3 separate regions of the Homo sapiens genome follow, and all the other regions are linked to region 1. Evidence: fine-mapped expression QTL. A gene starts in region 1. Each other region holds a variant in brackets. All regions are shown on one strand. Distances are between the middles of the regions. Region 1 holds the start of MRFAP1L2 (Morf4 family associated protein 1 like 2). Region 2 has its middle 7.4 kb from the start of MRFAP1. Region 3 holds the start of S100P (S100 calcium binding protein P).

Region 1 (8,000 bases):
AACATGGGACATGAGCAGAGCGGGGATGCCTGCATTCAGCCCTCCAAATCTCACTTAGCCTGAGAGACAACTTACACCTCTCGTCAGTCAGAGAGGGTCTCTCATGGAACATTCTATGAGGCCAGAAACTCAGTCCCAGGCTTGCTGCTGCAGCCCTCTCCAGAGTGGTCAGCATTCTGAACCATTGTTTCAAAAACCATCACGGGCCGGGCGCAGTGGCTCACGCCTGTAATCCCAGCACTTTGGGAGGCCGAGGCAGGTGGATCATGAGGTCAGGAGATCGAGACCATCCTGGCTAACAAGGTGAAACCCCGTCTCTACTAAAAATACAAAAAATTAGCCGGGCGCGGTGGCGGGCGCCTGTAGTCCCAGCTACTCGGGAGGCTGAGGCAGGAGAATGGCGTGAACCCGGGAAGCGGAGCTTGCAGTGAGCCGAGATTGCGCCACTGCAGTCCGCAGTCCGGCCTGGGCGACAGAGCGAGACTCCGTCTCAAAAAAAACAAAACAAAACAAACAAAAAAAACCCCATCACGACAGTTAGAGGATGCAGATGGCACATCAGGAGCTACTGATGTTGTGAAAGAGCTTTGGCATCAGTTGAATTCTTCCCGGCAAGGTTCTAGGGTTGTTTTCTGTTTTGTTTTTGGCTGAAGTTTCCCCACCTGAACAATGGGGATAATAAAATGACCTCTGATATTTGTGAAAATTAGATATGTTAAGTGCCTAATCCCAAGTGGATTCTTGTAATACAGGCTTTTGTTTTCTCATTTTCACATCCTCAGTGTCCTAACACTGGCGGGAGCTTAGGGAATTGGGCTGGGAGGTAACAGACGAGACAGGCCAGTGCAAAATGTTTCCCTTTTGGCCCCTTTGTGTGGTTTTAGACTTCTACCTACTCCTGCCATCCCACTGACATCCTATATAATGATGTTCCTCTTTACAAGTTTGCTAAAGCAAATTTAACAATCCCAGGGAAAATTTTTTTAAAAAAGGAAATGTATTTAACTGTAAGCGCGCTTGCCTTACCCGAGACACAAGACTCAAAGACAGGTCTCCCGAAGGATCCCCCATTCCCCCCGCCCCATTTCCATCCACGGGCGGCCTCTGCAGCCCACGCTGGGCCCCTGGCCTGTTTCGTGTTCCCCATGCTTGAGGTGCTGTTTGTGTAGCTGTGCCCATGCTTCCGCTCAGAGCAAGTCAGTGGGTCTGAGGGGACTCCTCCCTAAGTCCTCCCACCAGACACAGCGTAAGCACCTCTTTGCCTGTGAAAGTCCTTGTTTACATCTGCAGTCCCAGATGAATTTCTATTAATAGAGCCACCCTTCACTTTCAAAAGTGGCCCAGTTTGTTTGACAAATGGTACTAAATAGGTGCTCAGGTCCCGAGCCTCAGAGCCATTGCTGAATCCTCTCATGTCCACAGGCAGGCCCTCGGCACTTTCCCAACGCAGTCCACACCCGTCCCCATCCACACAGCGCGTGCTCCACTCTCCACGCTGCCTCCCACTCTTGTCCTGGTCCCCCACTGTCAGGCCTGAGCACAGCAGCCACCACCTCAGATGGTCAGCTCCCATCGCTCCTCTGCTGGCAACCCCCCACCAGCTTCACATCCACCCACTTCTCCCTCTGACCTCGGTGCCCACCACTTCCTCCCTTCCCACTGGGGTTTCATGCTGCCTCACCTTTTTACCCTACTTGTTCCCCGTGCCTAGAAGACTCTTTCCCCAGACACCCATGCACATTCCACACATCAGCCTTCACTCAAATGTCATATCAGACATGTTACCTGACCATGCAAATCAACTAGAAATCCCACACCCTATCCCCCAATGCCATTTTTTTCCCCCACAGAACTTACACTATTTAATATGGGTACATATCATTTTTTTCCTGCTTCCCTCATTTAGGGGTTATCTAACAAATACTTAGGAAACACTTACTATAGCCAGACACAATTCTAAGCATCTTATGAATAACAAATCCAACTTTTTTTTTCTATTAGAGACAGGGTCTCACCATGTTGCCCAGGCTGATCTCAAACTCCTGGCCTCAAGCAATCCTCCTGCTCAGGCCTCCTAAAGAAATGGGATTACAGGCATGAGCTACCATGCCTGGCCCTCAGATCCAATTTTACAAGCACTTTGTTCACTCAGGTAGTCTCAGCATCTGTAGGTGCTCAATTTATGCGTTGAATCAAAGACCAGCATTGCGGACACTGTACTGTAATTGTGTTTTCAGACCTGTCTCAACCCACTAGATCGTCTCTCCAAGAAATTCCTAGTGCCTGGCATAGTGTGGAGCTCTGTGGTCACAGTGAACACTAGCTGCCTGAATGGACTTCACCTCTCCAAAGGCTGGGGCCAGACCATATGGCTTCATGAGGCACCCCTTTCCTACTCTAGGTCTGCCTTCTTCTTCTTCTGCAGCTCAAACCCCACCCTGGGCTACAGGCTTTGAACAACTCGTGAGTCAGAAGCAATTCTCCTCCATTTGACAGTGACCACTATCAAGGAGAAACTCATTTTGAAAAATGTTTATTTACCTTACCTTTTCTTGGCCAAGTCAATTGCTTTGGTCATCTGCACAAAGATTCTAAACACTGGCTTTCAGCATTTCTTTTTCCAAGCAAATGAAATTTATCATAACAAGACAGAGCTCTGATTTTAGTCTCTGTGGAGTCTGGGCTCTGATGACCTAGGCTAGTCATCATCTAAGCCTGGAATGACTGTTTGGGACCCCCATGGCCAGCTTGAAGCTTTCCTTCCTCAGCCACTCTGGGCCCCTGAAGAGGTCACATGCATCTGTGGCAGAGACTGTATTATAACAAAGTTGTTTACCCCAAAGTCAGCAAACACATGTACCTAGAACTCATCCCAATTGTAGGTTGCTCACCAGACAGGTTACACGATGTGCACCAGTTAACATGCCATAGGAAAATTACATTCCAAGAAAAAGCAAAATGCTATAAAAACAAAAAAAACAAAACACCCAAAACAGCTCTCCCTCCTTTGATCTGATGGTCTGCAGAGGTCCTCAAATCCACACACTGCCACTCTTCAAGACCAACCGTCCACTGGGCCTTCTTAATCTCATCCAAAGTCGCATTCACAACTTTGACAGGAGCTTGGGTTCTTCATGTGGCAGCTGCAACCATGTAGTGTCTTCTCACTTGCAGAACTCTAACCTCAAGTCTCTCATGAGTCCCCAAATTCCAGGAAGCATAAAAAAACAGCAAAGCACACGAGTATACTTCCAAACTTTGAAAATACAATAAGATCACAGGAACAAATATGACCACGCAGCAGCGTACGTACTGTATAGGCCATATTCCTTTACGTGGGACATTAATGAAAAGCTGTCTTTTCCAAACTGAATGCGCCTATTAATAAAAAAATACACCTGACCATCTAATGCTGAAGTCATCCGCCAGGATGGTACTGGAAATTGAGTGGCTAATGTGGAGAAAACGCAGGCAGAAAAACAGGGGAGACAAAACGAAAGGCTCTCTTGGTTTGAGCCTGTCCAAGCAGCCACGACTCCTTATCAGGTGAACACAGTTCGTCAGTTGGCCACCTAAAGTACAAGTGGGAGAAATTCATCATCACAACATAAATTTTGAGCTTGATATTCTCATATCCGGGAGTCAAACAAACCCAACCACCTGTGCACAATGCTTCCACCTGCAGGAAGGTCATCGCAAACGCTCCAATCTCGTAACAACATTCACACGTTTCCAGCATGTACCTCCGCTTCACACCTCTCTCCCCCCACGTAGTGACCCACCAGGTCTACGTCCTGAAAATACTTCCAGTGGTCATGACTCTTTACAACAACATATCAAATTATTTTCTCTAATTACCTATGAAAAAAGAATGAAACCAACTCCGCGGAGAGCGTGGCACGGCTCTGCGCTCCCCTCCCTGCCTACCCAGCGCCTTCCACGCGGGACACTCCCCGCCGCGCTCCGCTCCAGACCCGCGCGGCCTCGCCGGCTCAGCAGCACTCGCAGCCGGCGATCCGCTGGTGCAGCTCCACGATCCGCCTGCCCATCCGCGCCGCCTCCGCAGCCTTCCTCTCTGCTTCGGCGCACAGCCGAGCCACCCGCTCCTCAGCCTCCGCACGCGGGCGGGGTGCTGGGGCCCGGGCGCCCCGCTCCTCTGCCTCCACCTCACTCTTGATGGCGTCGAGCAGGCTCTGGATCTCCAGCAGCTTCCTGCGGGCCCGCCAGTGCGCCCGGGCGCGCTCGCGCTCCAGGGAGGCCAGGTTCTCGCGGCCGGCGCGGGGCGCGGGGCTCAGCGGGCTGCCCGGCTCCTCGCGGGGCTCCCGCGCCTCGTCCGCGTCCACGGGCCGCATCACGCCGCCGCCTCTTCCAGCCCGCGGGGCACGCCGGGGCTGCTCACCAGCAGCGAGCGCGGAAGCCTCGCTGTCACCAACGACCAGACTAGCAACAGGTTGCCCCAACTTTCCGCAGCGAGGACGGTATCCAAAATGGGCTACTAGCCGTCGGCCAGGACGCTGCCACTGCGGCCCTTTTACGACACCTGCGGTCCTTTACCGCCACGCAGCAAGCGAGAACCGCATTCGGGGCTCCCGCCTCAGCGGTCCTGCGCGCGCACGCGCACTTGCACGCACGCGTACCCCCCCGCACGCATGCGCACCCCATGTCCCCGCCCGCTGTAGCGCCACAGCTCTTTGGGCGTTGATTCTAGGGTCAGGGCCCTCACTCACACTGCTGGAAGGTTAAAGTCGACTTCACGCTAGTTTAAGGAAATATCTGACGCTGATAACCATGTCCCAAGCACTGCTCTAAGTTCCCAATGTGTCCGGAATTGGTGGGTTCTTGGTCTCACTGACTTCAAGAATGAAGCCACGGACCCTCGCGGTGAGTGTTACAGCTCTTAAAGTGGCGCGTCTGGAGTTTGTTCCTTCTGATGTTCGGATGTGTTCGGAGTTTTTTCCTTCTGGTGGGTTCGTGGTCTCGCCGGCTCAGGAGTGAAACTGCAGACCTGTTACGGCTCATAAAGGCAGTGTGGACCCAAAGAGTGAGCAGCAGCAGGATTTATTGCAAAGAGAGAAAGAACAAAGCTTCCACAATAGAAGGGGACCTGAGCCGGTTGCCACTGCTGGCTCCGGCAGCCTGCTTTTATTGTCTTATCTGGCCCCACCCACATCCTGCTGATTGGTAGAGCCGAGTGGTCTGTTTTGACAGGGTGCTGATTGGTGCGTTTACAATCCCTGAGCTAGACACAAAGGTTCTCCAAGGCCCCAGCAGAGTCGATTGGTATATTCACAAACCCTGAGCTAGACACACGGTGCTGATTGGTGTATTTACAATCCCTGAGCTAGACATAAAGGTTCTCCACATCCCCACCAGACTCAGGAGCCCAGCTGGCTTCACCAAGTGGATCCCACACCAGGGCTGCAGGTGGAGCTGCCTGCGAGAACGGCACCGTGCGCCCACACTCCTCAGCCCTTGGGTGGTGATGGGACTGGGCGCCGTGGAGCAGGGGGTGGTGCTCGTCGAGGAGGCTCGGGCAGCACAGGAGCCCATGGAGGGGGTGGGAGGCTCAGGCATGGCGGGCTGCAGGTCCCGAGCCCTGCCCCTCGGAAAGGCAGCTAAGGCCCGGTGAGAAATCGAGCACAGCGCCGGTGGGCTGGCACTGCTGAGGGACCCAGTACACCCTCCGCAGCCGCTGGCCCGGGTGCTAAGCCCCTCATTGCCGGGGGCTGGCAGGGCCAGCCGGCTGCTCCGAGTGCGGGGCCCACCAAGCCCACGCCCACCCTGAACTCCAGCTGGCCCGCAAGCGCCGTGTGCAGCCCCGGTGCCCGCTCGCGCCTCTCCCTCCACACCTCCCTGCAAGCTGAGAGAGCCGGCTCTGGCCTTGGCCAGCCCAGAAAGGGGCCTCCACAGTGCAGCAGTGGGCTGAAGGGCTCCTCAAGTGCTGCCAAAGTGGGAGCCCAGGCAGAGGAGGCACCGAGAGTGAGCGAGGGCTGTGAGGACTGCCAGCACACTGTCACCTCTCACCAACATTCTAAATCATAAACACCCAGGCCGGGCGTGTGGCTCACGCCTATAATCCCAGCACTTTGGGAGGCTGAGGTGAGAGGATCGCTTGAGCTCAGGAGTTCCATACCAGCCTGGGCAACAAGGGAAAAAACCCTACCAAAAAAAACACAAGAAATTAGCTGGGCGTGGTGGCGCGTGCCGATAGTCCCAGCTACTTGAGAGGCTGAGCCGGGAAGATTGCTTGAGCCCAGCAGGTCGAGACCGAGGTGAGCTCTGAACGCCTGATTGCGCCACTGCACCCCAGCCCAGTGACAGGGCGAGACCCTGTCTCAAAATAAATAAATAAAAATAATAAACAACCGAATTCAGTGGTCCCGTTAGAATATTCCAGGCTCCGAGAAGCCAGGTGCTCACAGCGTCGGGATTTGCCCCCAGCCAGGGCCTCCGCTCCCTCTTGCCTCGGGCAGATGCTCCTGGAACACAGAGCTGCGGCCTCGGTGCTGATGCTGAGTGCTGTGACCCAGCCTCCCCCTACTTTTTTCCTAAGGGTATAAGCTTCACTCTGCCTGGGGCTTTGGCTGTAAGTTGGAGTCTGGCTTTACCCACTGTGGGCACCCAAGGCCAAGGTGGGTCTGATTCACCACTGTTTCCTCAGCCCTGCCAGGCTCTGAATATGCCTTTAGGAATCATTCTGGAAGATTTCTTTCTTCACTGGACTATATAAGTGCCTCTGCGAGAAAACAGGCCCTAGGGGCAGGTACTTAGTCAGTTTAGTCATCTGTTTCCTCAGCTTGAAATGGGCTTGGCATACAGCAGGAGCCCAGTAAATGTTGCTTTAATGCTCATTTCCCAAGAGATCTTTATTAAGCACCCACTGCATGTCATTGTGTCTAGGCTTATTCACTGTGTACCTCTAGCAGAAAGTTAAGGGGACCCTCCATGCTTGATGGCCAGAGGTCACTCTCAGCTCCTACAGGTCACTCTCCGGTCCTTAAACGTGGCCCTCTCCATCTTCAAAGCCAGTAAGAGCATGTCGGATCCTTCTTATCCTTCCAGCCTCTCTGTCATCCCCTTCTGCTCCCAGCTGGAGAAAACTCTGCTTTTAAGGGGCTTGCCATGGTCCAAATATGTGAGTCCCCCCAAAATTCATATGTTGCAAAGCAATCCCCAATGTGATGATATTAGGAGGTGGGGTCTTTGGGAGGTGATGTGGTCATGAAGGCTCAGCTTTCATGAATGAGATTAGCACCCTCATAAAACAACTCCACAGGGCCGCCTTACCCCTTCTGCTGTGGGAGGTTATAGCAAAAAGATGGGCTTCTATGAACCAGAAGTGGGCCCTCACCAGGCACCAAACCTGCTGGCACCGTGATCTTGTACTGCTCAGCCTTCAGAACTCAGAAAATACATTTCTGTTGTTTAGAAGACACCCAGTTTCTGGTATTTTGTTAGAGCAGCGTGAACGGACTAAAATAGTGCTTATGTGGTTGTGTAACAGCATCGATTCCATGTTAAAGAACAATTTTGCTTGCTCAATTATAATTATTGCTTTGCTTAAGTTTTAGACTATGCTAAAAACAGCCTCAGGACCTTCAGCACTGATCAACAATCCTGGGCATGGGCTGACCGACAGTTTTCACCCAGAGAGTGAAGATCATGGAGGAGCCATCTTAAATTCTGCCCAGCGCAGGCTCCCAGGAATCCTAATGTCACGATCTCACTGCAGCCAATGTGACAAACACAGCAGTAATTAAGTCTAGAGAGCTAAACACACCTCAAAAAGAATTGTCTCTTGGTATGAGTGGAATGGAATAAAATACATGGAAACCCACAAAAGTTTCGAGGTGAACATATTAGCAAAAATGCTCTAGCTTATCCAAGCGACAGTTCAAAGTGTCAAAGGACTTCTAGACTCCCAATCTTTCCACCGGCAGAAAGCAGGCTCAGTAGCCCAAACTGGCGCATTTTAAAATGCCCTTTTCAGAAGTGTGATG
Region 2 (8,348 bases), 26 kb after region 1:
AGCCTGGTGAGATCTTGGCTCACTGCAATTTCCACCTCCCGGGTTCAAGCGATTCCCCTGCCTCAGCCTCCCAAGTAGCTGGGACTACAGGCATGTGCCACCATGCCCAGCTAATTTTTTGTATCTTAGTAGAGACGGAGTTTCACCACGTTGGCCAGGATGGTCTTGATCTGCTGACCTCGTGATCCGCCCGCCTCGGCCTCCCAAAGTGCTGGGATTACAGGCGTGAGCTACCGCGGTGGGCCCATGCTGACTGTTTTATCCATTCTTTCTGGGTTGCTGTGTAACGTGTGTCAGGTATCGTATGTCCATATTTGCTCATATCTGTATCTGGGCTGTATACTCTGTTCCACTGGTCTTTACCTATCTCTGGGCCATTACTCCATTGACTTAATTACTGTTAGCTTTATAATAAATATTAATATTTGGTAAAGTATAGCAAGGCCTCCCATCTGGTGCTACTGCAGGAATATCCTGGCTTTCTGCTTGTCCATCTAAATTTCAAATTTGTGAGTTCCCTGTGCTCCTCCCCACACCCACCAGACTCAAGAGATCTCCTGCCTCAGCCTCCAGAGTAGCTGGAATTACAGGTATTTGCCACCACATGCAGCTAATTTTTAAATTTTTTGTAGAGACTAGGTTTTGCCATGTTGCCCAGGCTGATCTTGAACTCCTGGGCTCAAGTGATATGCCTGCCTCCACCTCCCAAAGTGCTGGGATTACAAGTGTGAGCCATTATGCCCAGCCAAATTCATGGTTTTTATTTTTATTTTAGTTTTAGAGACAGGGCCTTGCTCTGTTGCCCAGGCTGGAGTGCAGTAGTGCAATCATAGCTCACTCCAGCCTGGAACTCCCAGGCTCAAGCAATCCTCCTGCCTCAGCCTCCTGAGTAGTTGGGACTACAGGCATGCACCACCACACACAGCTAATTTTTTTTTTTTTTTTGGTAGAGATGGGGTCTTACTATGTAGCCTAGGCTGGGTTTGAATTTTTGGCCTCAAGTGATCTTCCTGCCTTGGCCTCCCAACATGCTGGGATTACAGGCATGAGCCACTGTACTCAGCCCTCAAATTAATTTTTTTTGTAAATTCAACCCAAACAATCAAAACAGACCCATCTGAAGAGATTTTTATTGGGACTGCCTTGATTTGTGGGAGCAGTTTGGAGAATAATTATGATACTAATTTTCTTAATCTATTTTGTCATTATTTAATGTATTTCAACATAATTTTATGCATAATGGTTTTTCACATATTAAAAATTTAATATATACGAATATATATTTTCCAACCATTTGTACTGGGTTGAATAATGTCCCTGCAAAATTTTTCTGCCCAGAACCTTAGAATGTGACTTTATTGAAAATAGGTTCTTTGCAGACCTAGTTAAGATGAGGTTAGACTGGATGAGAGCGGGCTCTAAATGCAATGACTGGTGTCCTTCCATGAAGACAAAGGGAAGAAGGCCATGGGATAATGGAGGCAGACTGGACTGACGCAGCCACAAGCCAAGGAATGCCAAGAATTGCTGACAATTACCAGAAGCCAGGGAGAAGCAAGGAAAGATTCTTGCCCAGATGGTTCAGAGAGCCCATGGCCCTGCCAACACCTTAATTTTAGACTCCAGAACTATGAAAAAACAAATTTCTGTTTTAAGCCACTTAATTTGTGGCAGTTTGTTATGGTATCCCAAGGAAACACACCATTAAAAAAAAGTTTTTGGGTTCTATTATCAGTGGTACCTTTCAGAAAATATATTTCCTCTTCGTTCCCGGTAAAGAGAAACACTACTGATTTTTATTGATTTTTGTGTCTAGAAACCTTGAAACTCTAGAAACTATTATTAATGTTGGCAGTTTAGATTCTTTTGAATCTATGATGTCTCAGAGACATCATATCATGGGAATATAACTGATGCAGGACAAATTGGGGCTTAGCCTGGGAGGGTTCTTGGCTTCCTCCAGGAAGGAATTCAAGGGTGAGCCAGTGGTGGTAGACAGCAAGAGTTATTGATGCAGCAGTGCACAGTAGCAGCACAGGTGGTGTGCTCATAGGCAGTGAGCCCAGAGGAGCTGCTCAGGGCAGTTCTGCAGTCATATTTATGCCCACTTTTAATTACATGCAAATTAAGGGGTAGATGCCAGGTGCGGTGGCTCATGCTTGTAATCCCAGCATTTTGGGAGGCTGAGGTGGGTGGATTGCTTGAGATCAGGAGTTTGAGACCATCCTGGCCAACATGGTGAAACCCTGTCTCTACTGAAATACAAAAATTAGCTGGGTGTGAGGTGGCTCATGCCTATAATCCCAGCTACTAGGGAGGCTGAGGCAGGAGAATTGCTTGAACCCAGGAAGTGGAGGTTGCAGTGAACTGAGATCGTGCCACTGCACTCCAGCTTGGGTGACAGAGGGAGACTCTGTCTCAAAAAATAAAAAAAAAGTCTGGGTGTGGTGGCTCACTCCTGAAATCCCAGCGCTTTGGGAGGCTGAGGTGGGCAGATCATGAGGTCAGAGTTCGAGACCAGACTGGCCAACATAGTGAAACCCCGTTTCTACTAAAAATACAAAAAAATTAGCTGGACATGGTGGCAGGCACCTATAATCCTAGTTACTTGGGAGGCTGAGGCAGGAGAATCGCTCGAACCTGGTTGGCGGAGGTTGCAGTGAGCCGAGATCGCGTCACTGCACGCTAGCCTGGGCGACAGTGCAAGACTCTGTCTCAATAAAAAGAAAAAATAAATAAAGTAATACACTAAAAAAATTAAGGGGTAGATTATGCAGAAAGTTCTAGAAAAGAGGTGGTAACTTCTGTGTCATTGGGTCATCGCCATGGAAAGCGGCTGTAACTTCTGGGGGTTGCCATGGCAATGGTAAACTGATGGCACTGGTGGGCGTGTCTCATGGAGAGGCTTCCAACTCTTCCTTGTTTCAGCTAGTCTCAGTCTGGTCTGGAGTCTAAACCCTGCCTCCAGAGTCGAGTCCCGCCCCCTACCTCATAACGACAATAGTGGTGGTGGTTTTAAAAATACGTCCACATGATAAAAAGGAATTTGAAAAGATTAAAAAAATATGTCCACAATCTTCTTGCTACTCATCTCTTCAGTAGGTGGAGCATAATTCTTCTCTCCTGGAGTATGGGCTGGCTTGCTTCTAACACACAGAATAGGGAGGAAAAGGGAGGAATGGGAAATACATGGTGCCTATGGCCTTTGGGGATCATCAAAGGTCTTGCTCTCTAGCAGAAACTATTTTGCCTCCTTCCCTCTAGGTCCCTGGCTTTTGCCTCAGGGAGACTTTATTATCTATTATCTTCTCAGGCCTTGTATGAAATGTGCCTCAGAGGTTGCCCCCTCCAGGGGCTTTGCAGTTTCTGAAGCCTTCTTCATGCTGGTGCAGGTGCTGGGGCTCAGCACTTCCTTCAGGGGCTGAACAACCCCAAGTTTTAGCAGACTCACCTTGGAATTTCTTTGGCCATATATTTCCTTCAAAACCTTCGGATGACTTTGGGAGACTGAGGCAGGAGGATTGCTTGAGCCCAGGAGTCTGAGACCAGCCTGGGCAACGTAGGGAAACCGTATCTCTCTAAAAAATAAAAATAAAAAAATTAGCCAGGTGAGGTGGTACATGCCTGTGGTCCCAGCTACTGGAGAGGCTGAGGCAGGAGGATCGCTTGAGCCTGGGTGGTTAAGGCTGCAGTGAGCTGTGATCAGACCACTGCACTCCAGCTTGGGCAAAGCAAGACCCCATGTCTCAAAAAAACAAAAGGAAAACAAGAAATAAAAACACAAACAAGGGGGCCGGGCGCGGTGGTTCATGCCTGTAATCCCAGCACTTTGGGAGGCCGAGGCAGGCGGATCACGAGGTCAGGAGATCAAGACCATCTTGGCTAACATGGTGAAACCCCTTCTCTACTAAAATTACAAAAAATTAGCCGGGCGTGGTGGCGGCTGCCTGTAGTCCCAGCTACTCGGGAGGCTGAGGCAGGAGAACGGTGTGAACCCGGGAGGCAGAGCTTGCAGTGAGCCGAGATCATGCCACTGCACTCCAGCCTGGGCGACAATGCGAGACTCCATCTCAAAAAAAAAAAACAAACAAAAAAAACACCACAAACAAGACCCGCTCAGATGCTTCCTGCCTGTTTGCTGTCAGCCAGCCCCAATGTGCAGGCAGCCACAGCCCAAATCTTGTGAAGATGCCGGCATTTTCCTCACTGCGCTCTGTCCTTCCCCTGCTTTCCCAGTGGTGTCCCTGTGGAGCCAGTGTCCTTGACAGGAAGGTGACAGTCATCAGCTGGTGTTTGCCCACGTGACTGGCACTCACTTTCTGAGGAAGGACCTTTACTGAAGATGCTTGAGAAAGGTTTGGGGCCTCAGTCTCATTTCCCTGTAAGATGGCTTCTTTTGGAGCCATCTCCCGTAACTCTTTGGGTTTGGGATGCAGAACCCCTTTCCTGTGAGGCCCCAAATGACCAGCAGTGGTGCCTCTCCAAGCTCATTCATAGAAGCTACTGCAGGAAGCACAGTTGAGTGACAGTCTCCAACTGCCACATCTTTGCCTCCATAGCGATCACACCAAGGCCATGCCTGTCCTCCCTCAAAGAGACTAAATTCAGGACTAAACTTACTAGCCTGTCACTGCTGTTTCTCCCATTGATGAACCAAGGAGAACTCAGCCTAGGACAAGTTTCCAGTGATGTTCTCCACTCCTCTTCACCCCCAAACCTGTTCCTGGGCCTCCAGCATGTGCCTGACTTCTTGGAGGAGCTCTGCCCTCCCCCGACCTTACCCCTGAGAATAGTGCTATTTCATCCTCAGGCCTGTGAGGGAAAAGCCACTCATTTCTATATGTCCCTCGTGTGTCAATCAGAATTTGGGGGCAGTGTTCTCCCAGGCCATGTCCACACTCTACTTCTCCTCCCTC[T/G]TGTCCAAAATGGTGCTCCTTGGGAGCACTCCCTGGTCATCTGACTGTCCTCTCCCTCTTCTCACCTCTGTCATCCTCCAATCTCTTTTCACCCCATTGGAGTCCCGTCATTCACTGCAAACTTGGGCACCTGGCTCCTGGCCTTCCCCTCCACCCCAAGCCCTGCCATCGTCCTGAGCGAATTCCATGCTCACACAGCCACCAGCCCCACACCTGGGCCCTCATATCCAAGGAGCTCCTCCACCCTGCTTGGCCATTCACTCCCAAGAGTGACTTGGGGCTTGTTATTGTCTCAGACCTGGCCTACTTAATATCTCTGTGCCTCATTGATAAGACGAGACTAATTTTAATAATGGCATCTGCCCCACTGAGGGGTCGTGAAAGGCTTTTGAGGAATTGTAGGTAACTGGCACATAGTAAATGCTTCACAGGTGTTAAAACAAGAATTGATCTGAGGCCCCAGAAGCACGTAGCTCGCAGGATGTCATCCACAGATACATTTTATTTGACAATCAGAGTTTTTAATATGATAAATTGCTTTCCAATATCAGCCCTCCTATTTTCTGGCCACATCCCATCCTCCAGGTGACACTTTCACTGTAGTCACTAACATGCTGGGATCTCCATTCACTTTACCAGCTACTTTCGCCTATTGCTCTCCTGCTCTTCACCTCCATACTTCCCCACTCAGAGTACATCATGTATTGTTGCAGTGATGTCCTTGTCAAAACCCTAAGCTCTTTTTTTCTTTTTTCACTCCTCTCTGGCAAAAATGCAGTCCTGATGAACGCAGTATCTGCCCCAGGCAGTGGGCAAGTGCTGTAAGGAACCATCACCAACAAGGCTACAGGGAAGCCCAGGGCTTGGGGAAAATCTAGTTTCAGCTGTTAAGAGTTGGTAAAGAAATGTTCTTTGAAGAGGCAAAGAATAATATGGATTAATTTGGGAATAATGGAATGCAGGATTTTGTGAACCATGGTATAGAGTTTGAAGGAGGAAGCAATGGGGATATAAACCAGTAAATAGGTACCACAGAACATTATGGAAATCAGAGACGGGGAAAAGAGAATTGACTCAGAGAGGGTCTAACATATGCTGGGCTGTGTATTAGTCTGTTCTCATGCTGCTATGAAGAAATACCCGAGACTGATAATTTATAAAGGAAAGAGGTTTAATTGACTCCCAGTTCCACATGGCTGGGGAGGCCTCAGGAAACTTACAATCATGGCAGAAGGGGAAGCAAACCTGTCCTTCTTCGTATGGCGGCAGGAAGGAGAAGTGCAGAGCAAAGGGGAAAAAGCCCCTTGTAAAACCATCAGATCTCGTGGAAACTCACTATCACAAGAACAGTATGGGGGTAACCACCCCATGATTCAGTGACCTCCCACCGGGTCACTCCCAGGACAAGATGAGATTTGGGTGGGGACACAGCCAAACCATATCAGGCAGTGACTGAAGCAGGCACTGGATGGATTTTGTAGATTTACCTGGCCACAGTGTTAACCAGGGTAATAAATCCCCATTTATCTCTGGAAGATGGTAGAAACTCAAGCCACTCCATGTTTACCTGCTGCCTGGAAGGGGGAGAATGGCCAGGAGTAGGAGTTTGAACTAGCGCTTTCTTTCACCTTGAAGTCATTAGAAGGCAGAGGAAAGTCAAGAGCTCCACGTGAAAGCCAGAGACAGAAGATAACCTGTTGGACAATGCCTGGGCTAGTGGGAGGGATGTGATCAACGGGCCTCAGGTAGAAGGGAGAACAACCCTTTCATCAAAACACAAGGAATGGAAGAAATAATGAATATCTGTATCAGTCATCTTAGTCTAAGTTGTTATTGTAACAAACAATCCCCAAATCTCAGTGGCTTAAAACAACTAAGGTTTTTCCTTGTTTGTGGTATATACTCATCATAGATTGGTAGGGAACTGTGGTCATTAAGCTCAGCCACCATCTGGAATGTTGCTGGTTCCTGTGCCAGAGGGAAGAGACAGCTCTGCAGGGTGTTGCTTTGGAGGTTCTGGGTTGGATGCAACAGATGTAAGTTTCCTTTGTAGCTCATCGGCCAGAATTAATCACGTGGGCCCACCCAACCCCAAGGGGGCCAGAAAGTGCCATCTTACTCTGTGCCTAGAAGGCAGAGAATTGGAATTTATTTGGTGAACAGCACTAATGACTTCTACATTTTAACCCAGAAAAGCTTCATTGCTCTCTGAGGTTATTTCCAGCTCTGCCATCCTGTAATACCAGGACTTTGGGAGGCCAAGGCAGGTGGATCACTTGAGGCCAGGAATTCAAGACCAGCCTGGCCAACATAGTGAAACCCTGTCTCTACTAAAAATGCCAAAATTAGCAGGGCATGGTGGCACCCACATGTAACCCCAGCTACGCGGGAGGCTGAGGCAGGAGAATTGCTTGAGCCCTGGGAGGCAGAAGTTGCAGTGAGCCAAGATCATGCCACTACACTCCAGCCTGGGCAACAGAGTTAGACCCTGTCTCAATAAATAAATAAACAAATAAATAAATATGGCAACTCCAGCCAGAAAATTTAATGACTGTACAGCCACGTAAGACTGTCTCTCAGAATGCTTCTTACCACATTCTTTGCTTAGAAAATGCAAGATTGGATTGCTCCTCCAATTGCTAGCAAGCCAGGAGTATGAAATTCAGGAGCTGGGGCAATTGGGAATTAGTGGCTGCATTGCAGTTGTGACCAGAATCATAAAAAAGAGGAACTAAGGAGTTACTGGAAAGATTTTAGGACAATAGTTTTCAAACTCTGGCATAAGAATGAACACTATGCAGCCTTAAAAAAAAAAAGAATGCAGATTTAGATGTTAGATAGGAAAAGACTTCCAAGTAAACAAATGAAGGACACGAACAGATTATACAGTGTGCTACCATTAATGTAAAAAACAAAACAAAACAAACAGGTGGCCTGGGCGCAGTGGCTCATGCCTGTATTGCTAGCACTTTGGGAGGCCAAGGTGGGTGGATGGCTTGAGCTCAGGAATTTGAGACCAAAATGGCCAAGATGGCAAACAACTGTCTACAAAAAATACAAAAATTAACCGCGGTGGTGTTCCAGTTACTCAGGAGGCTAAGGTGATCACTTGAGCCCAAGAGTTCAAGACCAGCCTGGACAAATAGCGAAACCCCACCTCCACAAAAAAAAAAAAAAAAAAATACAAAAATTAGCCAGAAATGGTGGTGTATGCCTGGTCCCAGCTACCAGGGAGGCTGAGGTGGGAGGATCACCTGACACCAGGAAGTCAAGGCTGCAGTGAGTGGTCACAACACTGCATTCCAGCCTGTGAGACACAGAGACCCTGTCTCACCAAAAACAAAAAAAAGTGGAAGCCGTTCAAACACATTAGTATTTGTAAGGATGTATAAGAAACTTCTAGTTTCCTGAGAGGGGAACTGGGAAGCTGGG
Region 3 (8,000 bases), 21 kb before region 1:
TCTACACTTTGGGAGGCTGAGTTGGGAGGATCATTTGAGCCCAGGAGTTCAAGACCAACCTGGGCAATATAGCAAAACCCCGTCTCTACAAAAAATTAGCCAGCCGCGATGGTGCGTTCTTGTGGTCCCAGCTACTTGGGAGGCTGAGGCAGGAAGATTGCTTCAGCCCAGGAGTTTAAGATTGCAGTGAGCCTCGAGACCATCCTGGCTAAAATGGTGAAACCCTGTCTCTACTAAAAATTACAAAAAATTAGCCAGGCTTGGTAGCAGGCACCTGTAGTCCCAGCTACTCGGGAGGCTGAGGCAGGAGAATGGCGTGAACCCGGGAGGTGGAGCTTGCAGTGAGCTGAGATCACACCACTGCACTCCAGCCTGGCCGACAGAGCAAGACTCCGTCTCAAAAAAAAAAAAAAGATTGCAGTGAGCCACGATAGCACCACTGCATTCCAGACTGGGTGACAGGGCAAGGCCGTCTCTCAAAGGAAAAAAGAAACAAAGATTTCCATTCTGGCAGTCCACCCCTTTTGTTTCCCCCATTATTAACTTTACTTCTCCCTCATTATTAGTTTTTACTTTATTTAAATGTGTGTATCTGCTCCCATCTAACCTAACACGACTCTCTCTCTAGCAAAAATATTTGCAATCTGCAGTCCCTTCCCCAAAGAGGGATCCACCCAAGCCTCGTATTGTTGTGTCCACCTCCAAGTTCAGGATCTTTTGGTGATAGATCTTCTCTAGTGAAAATGTCTTCAAACATAGCAAGAGGCTTTAAATACTGGGTATCCAAAAAATGATAGGGGTCCTAAAACCAGATCCAGTTACCTACCTATCATCCAAGACCTCGCTTGAGTCCTTTTGGGTGCTCCCAACATTAGTGTCGTAAAACTAAATACAGGTGATGTGAGCAGTTGTTCACTGATGATTCTAATGCTCTCTTGGAATTCATTGTTTCTCTGTTATGGTGTTTCATAGTCTTTGTGGCAAAAATAGCATTGCATCATTAAAAGTATGTTACTGTCTGGGCGTGGTGGCTGAAGCCTGTAATCCCAGCACTTTGGGAGGCCGAGGTGGGTGGATCACGAGCTCAGGAGATCGAGACCATCCTGGCTAACACGGTGAAACCCTGTCTCTACTAAAAATACAAAAAATTAGCCGGGCGTGGTGGTGGGCACCTGTAGTCCCAGCTACTCAGGAGGTTGAGGCAGGAGAATGGCGTGAACCTGGGAGGCGGAGCTGGCAGTGAGCCAAGATCGCACCATTGCACTCCAGCCTGGGCAACACAGTGAGACTCCGTCTCAAAAAAAAAAAAAAAGAAAAAAAGATATGTTACTTTGCGAGGCGCAGTGGCTCACACCTGTAATCCCAGCACTTTGGGAGGTTGAGGTGGGCAGATCACCTGAAATCAGGAGTTCGAGACCAGCCTGGCCAACATGGTGACACCCCGTCTCTACTAAAAATACAAAAAGTAGCCAGGTGTGGTTTTGCGGGTGCCTGCAGTCCCAGGTACTCGGGAGGCTGAGGCAGGAGAATCACTTGAACCCAAGAGGCGGAGGTTGCAGTGAGCTGAGATGGCGCCATTGCATTCCAGCCTGGGTGACAAGAGCGAGACTCCGTCTCAAAAATAAATAAATATTAGAAGTATGTTACTTGAAGAAAACATGCTGTTTGGAGAGATGGAGGGGCCCAGGTTCAATGAGTGGCTACGTGACCGACTAAATGAATTACGAAGTAGATGAATAAATACATGGATGTGTGTACCCGAGCCTCCCTTGGGTCCAGGACATGGTGGCATTCACACGGCCAAAGGTGGGACTGTGTCTCAGTGGGCACTCAGAAGATGGCCAACAAATGGATTTTTATCGACTGCCTTGTCTTCTTCATCTGTCTCACCACTGCAGGCAGGCAATGAGTAATGAAATGACAAGTTTAATTAGTGAATTCTGTTTTGTGGGGAGAGGACACTGAGGTTTTAAGGAAATAACCAGTTTCTCTGAGACCAGGATCATTTCATAAGCATTTATTAATCAGAGGTACATGAGCAGGCTCAGCCTAGGGGAATAATTGCCAACAAACACTTTTGGGAAGCCTGGGACCATGGCTCTGCCAGGAATCTGTGACATCTCCAGGGCATCATTTGAGTCCTGCCTTCTCAAAGTACTTGTGACAGGCAGACGTGATTGCAGCCACGAACACTATGAACTCACTGAAGTCCACCTGGGCATCTCCATTGGCGTCCAGGTCCTTGAGCAATTTATCCACGGCATCCTTGTCTTTTCCACTCTAGAGGAGAGAGAGGCTCAAGGTCAGCAGTGAGGGTGCCTGTGCAGGGCCTCAGCCTCCACCAAGCACTGCTGCTGGGCAGGAGCAGGGCACCCACATCTGCGTCACCTTTGCTGTCAGGGCCAGGGCCAGCTGTGCATAGCAGACACATGGCATTCCTGGCCTTAAGAACTTGTGAGCTGCCTTCAGCTATCTGGCATGACATGAACTAACTTGTAATGTTTTTAGAGCGAATTGGAATTGTGCTCTGCGAGAGGGAGTTTCATTTTGAGTTTTTGCCGGGGGTTGTCTTTGGATTTGTAAAGTGCTTTACAGTGATGGTTGTTCTCAGGAAATGCATCCAGTCTTTGCTCTATTTTTTGTGCACTGCTAACTTCATGGGCCTCCCATCTCGTGCTGGCACTGAACTAGCTGCTTACACAAACAGGAACTCCTCAACACCACCAGACACGGCAGAGGCATCGCCCTGTTACAGATGAAGATGATAAGGCCCAGAGGGCCCAAGGGACCTGCCCTGAAGTCACACAGGGAGCCGGGGAAAGCCAGGGTTGAGCCCCAGGTGTGGAGCGAGCATGGAGCAAGCACCCTGAGCCCTGTTCTTCCTCTCTGCTTGGGTCCCAAGCTCTCAGGTCTTCTTTGAGAAGGCCAGGCCGGCAGGGCTCTCAGAGCCTGCCCATGTGATAGCAAAGCGTTCTCACTGTGGGACCAAGCGGGACCAGGATGCAGATCTGAACAGCAGCAGCAGGGTGTGCTGATGACCCAGCCCTGGGCCAGAGAGCTGTGTGTCCAGGTGGAAAGAAACACAATTAAAATTGGTAGAAACATATCATCTGACCAAGACACAACTGTGTGCATGAAGACCTTAGTGACAGCATGGTTTGCAATAGCAAAAGTAAGGCAGGGAAGTACAAATTCAATAGCAAACAAATAGTGGTATGGCCATGTCACAATACCCTGCGGCCATTTCAAGTGATGTTTACAAAGTTTGTAGGCAGACAGTCACCTCGTATTTACAAAGCTCCGACTGTGCGGGGCGCTGGGTTGGGCACGGAGCAGATAGGGCCAGAAGGCCAGCCCAGCCCAGCCCTGCCCTCAGGCGGACATTGTTCTCTGACTCCGGCTTTGCTGGGCTTCAGCAGCCTCCGGAGGGAGGGCTGAGAAGGGCACCCAGGGCCTCCCCGAGGTGATTCTAATGTAACACATTAGCTGGACCCCCAGCTTTGCCATTGCTTCTCAAAGTGTGTTCCCAGGACACCTGTGCCTGCCCCTCCCCACACCCCAGTATCTTGGATCAAAGTCCTCATGGGTTCAATTCTCATACTTTGATCATTATCAGAACACCCCGAGCCCCAAGCCCAAGTTCCCAGGATGGGGCTGGGGTGTTTAATGAACATCAGAGTTTGAGAATTTATGTTGTAATGTTAAGCTCAAAAAGAAATTACATTGCATGTAAATCTCACTCACAGCAATGTTCATATGGGGAAAAGGCTGGAAGGGAGAGGAAGCGTCTGTATTCCAGGGGGGATTTCTTCCCTCCATATTTATCTATTTTTACATTTTCTACCAAAAACAGAACTTTATTTTTAAAAGATATCTTTACAGAATTCACATTTAGAAAATAGAACTAGGCCAGGTGTCGGGGCTCACGCCTGTAATCACAGCACTTTGAGATGTCGAGGCTGACGCATTGCCTGAGCACAGGAGTTTGAGACCAGCCTGGGCAACATGGTGAGACCTTGTCTCTAAAAAAAATACAAAAATTAACCGGGTATGGTGACATGCACCTGTAGTCCCAGCTACTCGGTAGGCTGAGGTGGGAGGATCACCTGAGCCCAGGGAGGTCGAGGCTGCAGTGAGCCGTGATCCTGCCACTGCACTCCAGCCTGGGTGACAGAGTGACATCTTGTCTCAAAAAAAAAAAAAAAGAAAAGAAAAGAAAATAGAAGCAATATTCTGAAGTGTTTCATGTCTTTGAAGTGATTCTAGGGCTGAAAATTTCAGGCTTTCATTTTTGATTATCAGCATCTATGTGGGTTAGCCCCTTAGCAGGTAGGCAGAGTCTGGTGGGGCCCGAAGGGGAGGGGAAGGAAGGAAG[A/G]AAGTGGGGGAGTGAGAAAGAAGGAGAGGACAGGGGTCAAAGGGAAGGGGAAATGGAGAGGGTACGGCTTCTGTTCAGCCCAGCCGGAGGCTGCCCCGGGCGGAAGGAAGCTGGTCCTGGCCGCCCTGAGGGGCCTTCTGTGAGGCTCAGGCCGGTGGCTCCTCCCTGGCAGGGAGCCCAAGGGAGGTCCACAGCTCTGCGCAGACAGGTGCCAGGATGGAGCCTCCTCCCGTCCTTCCTGCCAGACCCACTAATACCAGGCAACAAGGGGCCTGGGAATGGGAGCAGGGAAAGCGGGCAAGTGGGAGGCAGAGCTGGGGCGTTTATGGCCGGCAGCCTTGGAGGACAGCCCCGAGGGCTCAAGGGCTTGGCAAGCTTGGCAAACTTGCAAATGGCAGCCCTGGATTGCATTCCGCCCCTGCCCCCACTGCACAGGTTTGAGTCCCACTCTCCCACCAGGCCTGTCACAAATACACTGGGGTCAACCCCATGTTTCAAGGATCAAGCTGACCACACCCTCTCCCTGCTCAGATGCTCCCGCCTCCCCTGCCTTTATGCCAGGGTGGGTCCGTTCCTTGGCTGGGCTTCCAGGGCATTTCAGGATCTGTCCCTCTTGCCTCTGAGCCCCTTGACCGCCGACCCCACCGCAGCTCTCAGCCCTCTGCCTGCCACGCCTTCCCCTTCTTCCCCAGCCCCCGCTGAGTCCAGCACTGCCGGCCTGGCTCACCTGCAGGAAGCCTGGTAGCTCCTTCTCCATCAGCACCTTGAGCTCCCCCTTGGTCAGGGTCTGCGTGCTGCCCTCGCTGCCCGAATATCGGGAAAAGACGTCTATGATCATGCCCATGGCTGTCTCTAGTTCCGTCATGGTGCTAGATTCAGACCCACCTTCCTCCTGGGGGCTGGCAGGGCCGAGAAAATGTCCCACTGGCAGCCTCTTGGTGCTTTATAAGGCAGCCTCATATTGACACAGAGGGTGGGACAGTGGGGTTGGGACATTCAGGAAGTCCTGCCCCTCCCCATTCATGTGCTCAGTTCTGATGAAATGCATCGTTGTGATGACGTTTCTGGAACCTTTCCCCCAGCCAAGGCCCAGGGTGTGGGCTGCCTCCAGGCATCCACATTTTACAGTGTTCACCTGTGTCTCGGCGCCATCACTGAGCCACAGTGGCATCCTCATTCCTGGCCCTCCCTGGGTAAGTGGGCACGGGGTGAGTGTGTGTGGAGTGAGTGGTGACTCCGTGGCCCTTTGTGTCAATATCAGAGCGTGCTGGCACCCAGCGTGCTGACACGAGGAGACATCTGAGAGTGAATTCACATGGGCGTGTTTGTGAACATGGATCTGCCCCATCGTCCCTTTCTTAGAGCACTCTGTGTCCTTCAGAGGCCCAGCTTCCACGTCAATCTCGCTCGCTCCTCCCCTGTGGGGCCAAACAGAAAACTCCCCTTCATCCTCTGGGAGTTTGCTGAAAATCAACGGGCAGAAGGCAGATGAATAGGAGAAGAGCATAACAGATGTATTTGATCATAGCTTATGTGGCACGGCAGCCTTCAAGATGAAGATCCAAAGATCTGGTGGAAACTATCCATAAACACAGTTCAGCGAAGTATGGAAATATGATTGGATACAAAAGTAAGGCTGGATGCTCACAGACCAAGAGGAGAGCCTGGTAGGGCCTGTTGAGTCAGATTCCCTGGGGCCTCTCTGAGCAGCTCTCCTTCCTTCTAGGTGTGGGGCAGGACTCTTTCTGGAATGGAGCTCTTATGACCTACAGTCAAATAAAGCAGGCCAGAGGGTTTCTTTAGGCTGGTTTCTACACAGAAAGGGGAGGGAGTGGAGAACTGGAGTCATATTTCTGGGTTTTATGGCAGGGTTTGGGGAAGCCTCTCAGAGGAGGAGGAGCTGGAGACAGGAGGGTGGGAGCAGGACAGAGAAACTTTTGTTTCTGAGGCTTCCACGTTGGGGTGTTGTTTTTTGAGCCCCGGCACTTACCAAACCCAAATCACCCACAGGGCTTAGACGGCACAAAGGCTCCTGGGACTCTGGGCAGAGTCAGGGACAGTCACACCCCTCCCCGTCTCTATAGCGGAGGTACTCAGAGGGTCTGTGCTTGGGAGGCTGAGCGAGTCCTGGAGAGCATGGAGGTAGGGGCCTGTGTTCACATCCTGCCCCGGTCAAAGTAGGCCCACACTCAAAGGCCTCTCTCTCAGCAGAGATCTTCCAGAGTGTCAGCCTCCAGCAAGTTCCCTAACCTCTCCCAACACAGCCTCCACCAGCACATGGGCCGAGACTCTCCCCACGGGGCTGTGGCTCAACATAGAAAAACCTTGGTGCACGATGGCAGCAGCAGGTCTCACAAGAGCCGGCTTTCTCAGAACACACTGCCTCTGCCCAGGTGTCCTGCAGTGGAGGCTCAGACTGGCCCCACTGGTGACCCCTTGGGGAGCAGGGACAGGTCCATTCTGCTCACTCCTGAGCTGGGCAGTTCCCTCTTGGGATAAGGTCGCACAGCACAGGCCACCATCATACCACCCCAGCCAGAGAAGTGGGAGAGAGAAGGAGGCTCCCTACCCCAGAGGCAGTGCTCCTCAGGAAGGGCATTCACTGCGTTATATAGATATATATATACACACACACACACACACATATATATACACATATATACACATATATGTATACACACATATATACACACACACATATATACACACACACATATGTATATACACACACATATATATATAGATATACACACACATATATTTTTTGTTTGTTTGTTTGTTTGTTTGCGATGGAGTCTCACTCTGTTGCCCAGGCTGGAGTGCAGTGGTGTGATCTCGGCTCACTGCAACTTCCACTTCCCGGTTTCAAGTGATTCTCCAGCCTCAGCCTCCCGAGTAGCTGGGACTACAGGCATGTACCACCACACCAGGCTAATTTTTTGGGGGTTTCACCATGTTGGCCAGTCCGGTCATCACTTTGTTTTAAAATTTTTATTTATTTATTTATTTTTATTTATTTTTTGAGACGGAGTCTCGCTCTATCACCCAGGCTGGAGTGCAGTGGCACGATCTTGGCTCACTGCAACCCCTGCCTCCTGGTTCAAGTGATTCTCCTGCTTCAGCCTCCTGAGTAGCTGGGATTATAGGCATGCACCACCTTGTCTAGCTAATTTTTGTATTTTTAGTAAAGATGGGGTTTTACCATGTTGGCCAGGCTGGTCTTGAACTCCTAACCTCAAGTGATCTGCCCACCTCGGCCTCCCAAAGTGCTGGAATTACAGGCATGAGCCACCGTGCCTGGCCCCATTTATTTACTTTTAGAGACAGTGTCTTGCTTTCTCACCCAGGGTGGAGTGCAGTGGCTCAATCACAGCTCACTATAGCCTCCAACTCCTGGGCTTAAGTGATCCTCTCACCTCAGCCTCTCCAGTAGCTGGGACTACAGGGGCGCTCCACCATGCCCGACTATTCACTTTAATCTTTCACCGCTGTGGGAGGAAGGATCAGGACATCCATCGGGTGGAAACTGCTGCACTCCCCCACCCGTTCAGGCCACTGGAGTGTCACCAAACCACCAGGGCTGCCCCTGCTGGAGTAGCTCACCTGGGTAACTCTGAGGACAAGC

What was found.
Region 2: its variant is fine-mapped to the expression of MRFAP1L2 in atrial appendage (GTEx, PIP 0.95).
Region 3: its variant is fine-mapped to the expression of MRFAP1L2 in whole blood (TOPMed, PIP above 0.99).

Annotation. Positions count from the first base shown.
Region 1 is chr4:6,670,565-6,678,564 of GRCh38, reverse strand. MRFAP1L2 (Morf4 family associated protein 1 like 2) reads right to left here and starts at 4,490. Exons shown (of 1, transcript NM_138699.3): 1 at 2,518-4,490. The coding sequence starts at 4,352. The coding sequence ends at 3,993. It overlaps LINC02482 (long intergenic non-protein coding RNA 2482), which reads left to right and starts at 4,684. Exons shown (of 2, transcript NR_134665.1): 1 at 4,684-4,881; 2 at 7,572-7,837. RefSeq lists a silencer at 4,186-4,415 and an enhancer at 4,888-5,496.
Region 2 is chr4:6,643,956-6,652,303 of GRCh38, reverse strand. No RefSeq gene overlaps it. Among named protein-coding and RNA genes, the nearest start is that of MRFAP1, 7.4 kb to the right of the region's middle. The variant T/G (reference allele first, on the strand shown) is at 4,917.
Region 3 is chr4:6,691,173-6,699,172 of GRCh38, reverse strand. S100P (S100 calcium binding protein P) reads right to left here and starts at 5,295. Exons shown (of 2, transcript NM_005980.3): 1 at 5,103-5,295; 2 at 2,003-2,280. The coding sequence starts at 5,240. The coding sequence ends at 2,131. RefSeq lists enhancers at 2,327-3,089, 4,292-5,027, 5,028-5,764, 6,074-6,611. The variant A/G (reference allele first, on the strand shown) is at 4,376.